Linked DNA regions of Homo sapiens. The protein of the gene in region 3 purifies or fractionates together with the protein of the main gene of each other region. This does not show direct contact. Each region holds a gene or a part of one and is shown on either strand. Other genes may lie near its edges.

Evidence for each region.
Region 1: the proteins of TNRC6B (region 3) and PFAS purify together in Homo sapiens (affinity purification with mass spectrometry, with the first as the bait; one large-scale study listed by BioGRID). This does not show direct contact.
Region 2: the proteins of TNRC6B (region 3) and GMPS purify together in Homo sapiens (affinity purification with mass spectrometry, with the first as the bait; one large-scale study listed by BioGRID). This does not show direct contact.

Annotation. Positions count from the first base shown.
Region 1 is NC_000017.11:8,268,638-8,270,986, forward strand, and holds the end of PFAS (phosphoribosylformylglycinamidine synthase), read left to right. Parts: coding exon 1-219; intron 220-316; coding exon 317-627; 3' UTR 628-1,849; downstream 1,850-2,349. UniProt on the Homo sapiens protein: Phosphoribosylformylglycinamidine synthase involved in the purines biosynthetic pathway. Catalyzes the ATP-dependent conversion of formylglycinamide ribonucleotide (FGAR) and glutamine to yield formylglycinamidine ribonucleotide (FGAM) and glutamate.
Region 2 is NC_000003.12:155,936,650-155,940,149, reverse strand, and holds part of GMPS (GMP synthase [glutamine-hydrolyzing]), read right to left. Parts: intron 2,560-3,500; coding exon 2,458-2,559; 3' UTR 1-2,457. UniProt on the Homo sapiens protein: Catalyzes the conversion of xanthine monophosphate (XMP) to GMP in the presence of glutamine and ATP through an adenyl-XMP intermediate.
Region 3 is NC_000022.11:40,257,925-40,261,424, reverse strand, and holds part of TNRC6B (trinucleotide repeat-containing gene 6B protein), read right to left. Parts: intron 2,384-3,500; exon of another isoform or gene 1,057-2,383; intron 1-1,056.

The DNA.
Region 1 (2,349 bases), on a different chromosome or scaffold from region 3:
TGCTGGCTCTGCTCGGCTGGGTGGGAGGCGACCCCAATGAGGATGCTGCAGAGATGGGCCCTGACTCCCAGCCAGCCCGGCCAGGCCTTCTGCTACGCCACAACCTGTCTGGGCGCTACGAGTCTCGCTGGGCCAGCGTGCGTGTGGGGCCTGGGCCAGCCCTGATGCTGCGAGGGATGGAGGGCGCCGTGCTGCCCGTGTGGAGTGCGCACGGGGAAGGTCAGGCCCAAGGAAGGCTGGGGGAGGGCCCGAGGGTTGGGGGCAAGGGTGGGCATGAAGGACCTTGGCTCTCACTTCCCTCCTCCTTCCATCCCAGGTTACGTAGCATTTTCTTCTCCGGAACTCCAAGCTCAGATTGAGGCCAGGGGCTTGGCTCCACTGCACTGGGCTGATGATGACGGGAACCCCACAGAGCAGTACCCTCTGAATCCCAATGGGTCCCCAGGGGGCGTGGCTGGCATCTGCTCCTGTGATGGCCGCCACCTGGCTGTCATGCCTCACCCTGAGCGGGCCGTTAGGCCTTGGCAGTGGGCATGGCGACCCCCTCCATTTGATACTCTGACCACCTCCCCCTGGCTCCAGCTCTTTATCAATGCCCGAAACTGGACCCTGGAAGGGAGCTGCTGACTGGCCACAGGGGCTCACCTGGGCCCCATGGCTTTTCACCTAAGTGGGTCCTGCCCCCTCCCCCATGACCTTCAGGAGCACCCCATATTATTTCCAAAAATATCTTGGACAGACAAGGACCAAAATGCCAAAATCTCAGCGGACTCGATAATCTGCCTGCTGATGTTCCTTCTGTGGCTGTGTCTATTTTCAGTTCTGCTCTAACATGGCATGCCCTTTCTCAGCCCAGGAAACAGCATGTGGTTCAGAGAAAAGAGCGACAAGGAAAAGTTAGGACTCCTGAGGTCCGAACAGGGGCTTCTGTTGCCCACTTCACAACACCCAGTGATCACCGGTGTGCAATTGCCTCCTTGGCTCTGAGGGATGTTTTGCGCTCCCTTTTCTCATCATTGGGGTTAGCGGGTGCAGACAAATTCAGCAATAGTATGCAGATCAGCCCCTCACCACCTCATTGTTCTCATCTGGAACTGAAACTTTCTGGATTTCTCTTGAAGTGCTACACTGCACTGAATGTAAGGAATTGTTGCTTGTGGAAGTTTCTCAGCGTTTCTGGCTGTCTTAGGGCTGGCCTCAGAACCCAGCATTCCTGTTATTTGCTTCTAAATTAGCAGCTCTCTTTTTTTTTTTTTTTTTGAGGCAGTCTCACTCTGTCACCCAGGCTGGAGTACAATGGCGTGATCTCGGCCCACTGCAACCTCTGCCTCCTGGGTTCAAGCAATTTTCCTGCCTCAGCCTCCCGAGTAGCTGGGAGTACAGGCACACACCACCACACCCAGCTAATTTTTGTATTTTTAGTAGAGATAGGGTTTCACCATGTCTCCCAGGCTGGTCTCAAACTCCTAACCTCAAGTGATTCGCCTGCCTCGGCCTCCCAAAGTGCTGGGATTACAGGTGGGAGCCACTACAGCTGGCCCAGCAGCTCTGTTTCTGATAGAGGTGGTTGGGGCTCTCATCCCTAGATCCTAACCCTTTAGTATGCTGGAATTCTACTCTTCACTTACTGCATTGACTGTTGTTGATTAGTTATTATTGCAAAGCACTGTCACCGGCCTCAGGGAGTTTATGTGTAATAGAATTAAAAATAATAGCTGTGTATAACACTTAGCTCAAGCCACGCATGTGTGAGGCATTTGGTATGTATCTGAATTAATTCTCACTAAAATTCAGCAAAGGACTTGATAGCCCCTCCCCGCCTTTTCAATAAAGGATGAATGAAGGTTGACTGCATTGCCTGGGGTCCACAGATGGTGAGGGGGGCTGGGCGCACCCATACTACATCTGCTTCCCGCCATCCTGCAGTCTTACTTCCTGGAGGCAGTGTGTTGAGACTTTGTGCTGGCAGCTGTCTGTTGCTTCCTTTGCTCACAGGACTGTGGATAGAGGTCCCTTCCTCATGACTGTTCTGTTGTACACCTCAAGTCAGTTGGCTCCCTAGAATGTTCAACATCTTGATAAAAGGAGTTTGCCTGAGAATGGAGACTATAATCCCAGATCCCTGAGGGCTAGGAGAGCTGGGTGGGGGCGCTGAGCACTTCTGTGTGCTCCTGGTAGAGTAGCCACCCTGAGAAAAAACTGATAATAATGAAACAATGTTAAATGATGGCTATGGGGAAAACAACTATTTCAGAGATTTTTCTCATTGCTTTGCAAAGCGACCTACCCTGAGCAGTATGGGACTCCTCCGGATCATTTTTGACATTTGAATGTTCTTTCCTGACCCTT
Region 2 (3,500 bases), on a different chromosome or scaffold from region 3:
AGAGAGATGTGTCCCAGGTAGATGGTAAGCAACGGGAATAAAGTCATGATATGCCCAGAATAACCAATGATGAATGTTATTAGCCAGGTAGCCACCATTCTAGTCTTAGTAAAATAAGCATCCCATAAATGTTTATATAATTTTAGGTGTCAGAATACACATCAGGACAATCTGGACTAAGGAAACCTGAAATTTAATTCTGAAATTAATTAAGTAACCATGCCTAAGGTGAGCTTGTTTTCTTAACTGTAAAATGGAAGTGCAACCTTTAACTTTCCTCAGTGGCTCAGATGAAATACTGTGAAGGTACAGAGTAATGCTATATGGCACAAAGCAAAAAGTGCTGTGCAAAAGAAGACAGTGTGCTAAATATTAGGAAATTTCTGAGTTCCAGAAAATTTGGATTTTTAAGAAACTATGTCATGTCAAGATGTGCTTTGGAGTAACAATTTTCCCAATATTATATTAAGTATATACTAAGTATATATTAGAAGGGATTATATAAAAGGTGTTCAAAAAACAAATATCAGGAAAACACTAATTTAAGCAGAATTTAACAATTGTTTTTAACTTCAGAATTTCTCAGAGCTTTGAATATTATATACCATGAATCTCCAGGAAAGGACAAGTGAGCTTATGTTCCCCAAACTTATATGACCACCTAATCCTTTTTACATGGACCTTCTCAGTGGAGCAGTGTTCCATAGAACACACATTCTTACTCTCTATTTTTCCAAAATTCCTACTGTTTGCTTCAATACAAAATCATAAGACACTGTGGCTAGAAATTTTTTTTCATATAAACATAAACGTGTACTGACACATGTTGGTAAGCATTTTATAGGTTGTCTATTCTAGCTTTCAAATAACATGACTCTAAATCTGTAAAGACCAGATCACTAACATAGCCTCTTTCCAGAAGGCCATAATGAGTACCTCCTCATCAGATAGAGAATGTACCCTTTAAGTTTTGTAGGAGTCAAGTACCCCTTTGTCTTGGGGACAGATTTCTGTTAAGACAGACAGAAACTCTTCCCTTGCTGGTCCAGCAGCAGTTTTCTTGTTCCCTGGACCAGCCAGAATAAAAAGATGACTTCTGCCACGCATCATTTTGTTGTTTGTCTAACACTGAATCCCAAATAAAATTTCATTCCTGATTAATAGATCTGACCTTTTAAACTAGACAAGCAGCAGCAACCTGAGATGGAATTGTTAAGAGAAAAATATGGTAACATTCTTAGCTAAAATACTGAGAGAAACGGAGAGTTTAAGTCTACTACTGTCTACAGTACTTATGTGAATGTTATAAAAGATCTGTTAGAAACTGGTGGTGATGGCAACAAGTCCTACACCAGTTCTTAAATCCTCTCTTATAGCTAGTAGAAAGGATTACAAAGTTTGGCAAACATCTTGCATGTATCAAGACTGTTCACAGGTGTCTGAGCAATGAATAATATGTCTATAGATTAGATTTAAAAGCTCATTTTACAACTGTTTACTAGATGATATAAACATTTTTCCTCTCCCTTTTGTAAGCTGTAGGTATGCATCATAGCTTCTGTGATCTCAGAACCGTTTCTCTGACCAGCAAAAGAAGAGATGAAAATGCTCCTCTTGACCTCTATCTGCACTACACCAGAAACGTCATTGAGCCAGTTTCTTCTAAGGAGATAACAGAAACTTTCTATGCAAGGCTGTGGGGGGCTGGTAATATAAGGCTAGGAGGATAAAGCTCCTTACTAATAAACAAGCTGACATTGAATAACATGGCATCTATGTGGAACATGGTTTGAAAACATTTTAAGACCATTCATAGACATCTGAGACCACTCATAGTTTCTTCCTCCCAAGGCTGTGAAATAAAATTCAAAAGTACATCAACAAATTCCTGGTGCTTTTCCATCTTATGGTAGCTTACATTTTATACCCTCAGTGTCCTTCAAAAGTGGCTGGAATAGCCCACCTATACCTTTATCTGATATGTTCATCTCTTTTTCACCCTTTGGAGAAATAAGATTACTTATAAGAAAACTGATTCTCCAAAAAGTATATATAAGTAGTAAGTAACACTGGTAAATAATGGGCGTTTCTAACAGTTCTTAGAAACTGGTAAGGAGACAGAAGCCCATAATTACCCCCAAATTCACCCACCTTCATACATATTCACAGAGACATCAACAGTGAATTTATACATAAAGAATAAGTGAGGCAAAGGCAAAAGCAGTATCAATCTGTCTGAGTGTAGGCAATGGTGCTTTGATTATTTACCCGTACAAACTCTTCAGTCCCTTTTGGTTATCCCCAACTCAGCTCTTAAGCCGTAGATTTTTGCTGTGGAGAACTCAGATGTGATGTAGCTGCTCCAGTAACTCTTTTCACAGTACTGCATGTCAATAATGGGAATGATTTCTAATCAATTTAAACTGCACACGGTACTTTAATAGAACAAGAAGTTTATTACTCCCACTCAGTAGTTCCTGGGGGCTTTGATGTTAAGTCATACATAATTCGAGAAATACCAGGAATCTTCTTAATCTCAGTGACCATCTTTAATACCACCTATTAAAAAAAATTATAGAGAAAAGTCAGCATCCACTGCATGTCCAGCAGTCCTAGAGGGCTTACATTTGTAATTTGAAATTAAAATTTGACTATTTTCACTATTGTCCTCCATGTATATGGGATGGTTTCTGATTAATCTTATATAATGAACCTATTCCCCTCTGCAGGGATAGGTGTAAGTTATTAAGGTTTAAAATATTAGTGACTTAAACTCAGTACTACTCAAAGTGTGATCCACAAACAGGTGCTAGTCTGCAAGTTGTGTTTGTGACTGAGCCACAAGTGCTTAAGAACATATAGCGATTTGACATTGCTGTGGCATCCAAGCATGTGATTTTATGTGTTTCAGCCAATGCTCTGCAAATTATCTGCAGCTTAAACATACAACTCTAAGGGCCACCAAGGTGGCACAGAGTACACTGTAATAATCATTATCAAGTATACAGGAGAGGATAGCCTGCTCACTTGTCAAATTTGACAAATTTGAGCCTAAGAGAAAAATGACTCTAAGCCACGTTCCGAACCAACCCATCTACCTAGCTATCACGACAGCTTCGTGTTAGTGCACTGGAGGCAGTGGCCCAACTAATAGAGTCTCACTTTGATTTTCACTTGCTATTATGCAAGTAGCTCCTTTGGAATGTTCTGGTGAAGACAAAGAAGGATCAAAAATTGAGTTGGAATTGGTAGTAGGGAGAACATTTAGGCAATTCTTGGGTGTCTGGCCATAAAGCTATCAAATTGCATCCTTATTTCTAACAAACTCTTCTTCACTCCTAGAGTTTTCTTTTTTATTTGGGGAATACTGTTTGTAAAGTAGAAATTGGCAGGATTAGATAAAATTATAATCAATTACTTTTTATACAGTAATCACACAATTGGAGAGCATATATAATTTAAAGCCTTTTTCTGCCCCAGTGTATTAATCAAATATGTGA
Region 3 (3,500 bases):
TTGTATTTTTAGTACAGACAGGTTTTCACTATGTTGACCAGGCTGGTCTTGAACTCCTGACCTCATGATCCGCCTGCCTTGGCCTCCCAAAGTGTTGAGATTACAGGCATGAGCCACTGCACCCAGCCTATTTTTTATTTTTTTGAGATGAGGTCTTGCTGTATAACTCGGGCTGGAGTGCAGTGATCTTGGCTTGCTGCAACTTCTACCTCCAGGGCTCAAGTGATCCTCCCACCTCAGCCTCTTGAGTAGCTGGGACTACAATGCATACACCACTATGCCCAACTAATTTTTTTTTCCTCCTCTAGAGACAGGGTTTTGCCATGTTGCCTACCTAGACTGGTCTCGAACTCCTGAACTCAAGCTATTTACCCACCTCGGCCTCCCAAAGTGCTGGGATTACAGGTGTGAGCCACCACACCCAGACCCTGGCTAAGATTATTTGTAAGAAAGCTTACATGGTACCAATTCTAACAAAGTAACTTCTCCTTTTACTCTACTCTCAAGGGAAACAGTTTTTCCAAATTCTCCACAATCTCTCCAGTTTGCTGAAGGTAGGATGAAGGTGGCGGCTGACAGTGACAAGAATTTAAACACAGCAAGGTCATGGAATACATTCCATTAATTAAGGCGGAGAGGGAAGCAATCAACATTCACTCCCCTAAATCAACAGTGGAATTAATTCCCTGAAGTGCTGCCTAGAAGAGTTAAATGTCCATGGCAAAGTCCTTGGGAAAGGTTTCAAGCCTCAGTCCAAGGGTCCCTTCCCTTCATCCACATTCTTAAAAGATCTACCCCTGAGTAAACTTTATTGAAGCCCCTGGCCTAGATGGGCTAAACATTCTTCCTAAGTGCTCCTGGAACACATCATCCATCTCTCTCTACCATGAAAATTCTCCATTCAAAAATCCATCTATCTCTACCACCGAAATTCTCCATCTACAAGTCCCATCTCTCTCTATCACAGAAATTCTCCATTTACAAGTCCTTCTCCCTCACCAGGCCATGACTTCCTGAGGGCAAGGACCCATCTTTCATCTTTTCTTTCTTCCTTAGGGCATGGCACAGAGTGGACTCTTACAAGAAACTCCAGGCCTAGAAAATCACAAACTCAGCTTGGTTCTGGTTTCTACAGCTACCTGGACTCAAAGACTTGCACCGCTCTCTGTGTAAATACTAGAAATGTTACAAATCTTTTTGCTTTTCTTTAAAAAAAAAAAAAAGTGTTTCTTCCCAATTCTTTAAAATAGAAATTTCAAAATGTAAATACTTTTTCTGTTTACTTTAAATCATTTGATTTTTTTAAACTTAATTTTAAAAATGGCCCGCACACAGCGTGGGAATGTCGGGGCAACCGTGAAACCGCACTCTGCCGGACCCTCTGGCTCTTCCCGTCGAACATACAGAGAAGGCTCTCTTAGATCTGTACCTCCCTCGCTGCATGCTGCCAGAAGATCACTACCCTCTCCATAAAAATCTACCTGGCAAATAGAGGCTGGAAGTCGTACAGAAATAATCATCAAGCCTGACAGTTCGGATGATTCTGAGGCCCAAATCCCTGCCTCCCAGGGTAACGTCAGGGCCAACTCTGGGGGTAGTACTGCTTTGACTGCTAAAATGATGCGGGGCCAGCATGTTGCTTGCTGAACTGGCTCCTTTATGAGAGAGATACATCATCAGAAATCAGGCGGCCCAATCTATGCCACTACTGGACATTAACATACTGTGGGTGACAGGAGAAAAGAGCAGGTGCCTGCAGCAATTTCCAGGTAACCCCATGTCTAACCTCAGCTAATCACAAGGCAGCACCAGGCCTCCCAGTAAGGGGAGGGGGAGTGGAGGTCAGAGGATCCAAAATCTGATGAGCAGAATAAATGTGTGACTTAAGAAAATAAAATTAGTCGGCCAGGCGCGATGGCTCACGCCTGTAATCCCAGCACTTTGGGAGGCCGAGGTGGGTAGATCACAGGGTCAGGAGATCGAGACCATCCTGGCCGACATTGTGAAACCTAGTCTCTACTAAAAATACAAAAATTAGCTGGGCGTGGTGGCATGCGCCTGTATTCCCAGCTACTCAGGAGGCTGAGGACGAGAATTGCTTGAACCTGGGAAGCGGGGGTTGCAGTGAGCCGAGATCGTGCCACTGCCCTCCAGCCTGGGCCACAGAGCAAGACTCTGTCTCAAAAAAAAAAGAAAAGAAAATTAGTCATTATCTAATATTCATGACCTATAACAACAGATGGATACATAACTGGTAAATGAATGAATGAAGATTATTTAATATTAATTTTCTATCTGTTACTGGAGGATTCTATAGCACAGGGCATTCGCAATCCCCTTTTATCTTATTATGAGAATAAACAAGAAGTTGGCAGAGACTGGAGAAATTCATCCCAACTGGTTTTTAGGACAGAAAGAGCTATGTTTCTGTAAGGCTGCCCTGCTATAAAGGTCAAGAATCTTCATTATAAGTTACCCAGGTCTACTACATACTTTTAACTCAATCCAGAAAAACAACAAGACATGACAGAGTGACCTGCAGGACTGAGGGCTGAACACCAGTTTGACTCACTTTAAAACATTCACAGCACTGTTTCAACTGAAGAAATTTGGTAGGTATCACGTATCATGTAAGATTCCTTGCAAAAGTTCCTCAGGGCACTTTCCCACCACATCAGAGACAGAATGGATTGTAAATGATAAAGTCATTATAAAATGGGAACACACCTCAACCACTTTCCTCCCAATACAGTGTGCTCTGGCCCAGGAGATTAGTCATTCAAACTCCAGGACATCATGTACAAATAGGTCAAAGTATAAAAAGAAAAAAACAAAACCTCCAGGAAACAGTCAGAAAACGCCCAAGACACCACCTTAGTCATAGCAAACTGTGTTTCAGCACCTGAATGAATTCTTACTCTATTTTTTAAATCACACCTTTCTGTGAATCCAAGAATGTTAAGCTTTTAAAGGCCAACCAGAATTGCCGGCACTAATTGGAGAGCAACACAGCTTTTCAGGCAGGATGTCTGATCCAAATTGACTCCCAAAGTCCAAACTTAAGACATCAGAATCAGTGTGCATCACCCATCATCATGGTCCAGAATGTTAGACGATAAAGGGCAAGAGAAGCTATCATTAAAAGTCTGAATATGTTACTTTTCAGGCTGTCTCTTTTCTGAATCTTAAGGATTTGTAAGTTGTGCAAGTTTTTCTAAAGATGAGCTGTTCAAAGTAAGTGCATAGTTTCTTATCTTCCAGAGGAAAGGTTTGTGGCTTAAACATGATCTCAGTACTATAGGGAAATAAAAACATTGTGGGGTAAAAAAAAAAAAAAAAAAAAAAAAAAAAAAGGCTGTGTATCCTATTTTCTGATTTCCATTCATTTACTTCTTTTTTTGTTTGTTTTTTGAGACTGAGTCTTGCTCTGTTGCCCAGGCTAGAGTGGAGTAGCAGGATCTCAGCTTCCTGCAACCTCCACCTTCCAGGTTCAAGTGATT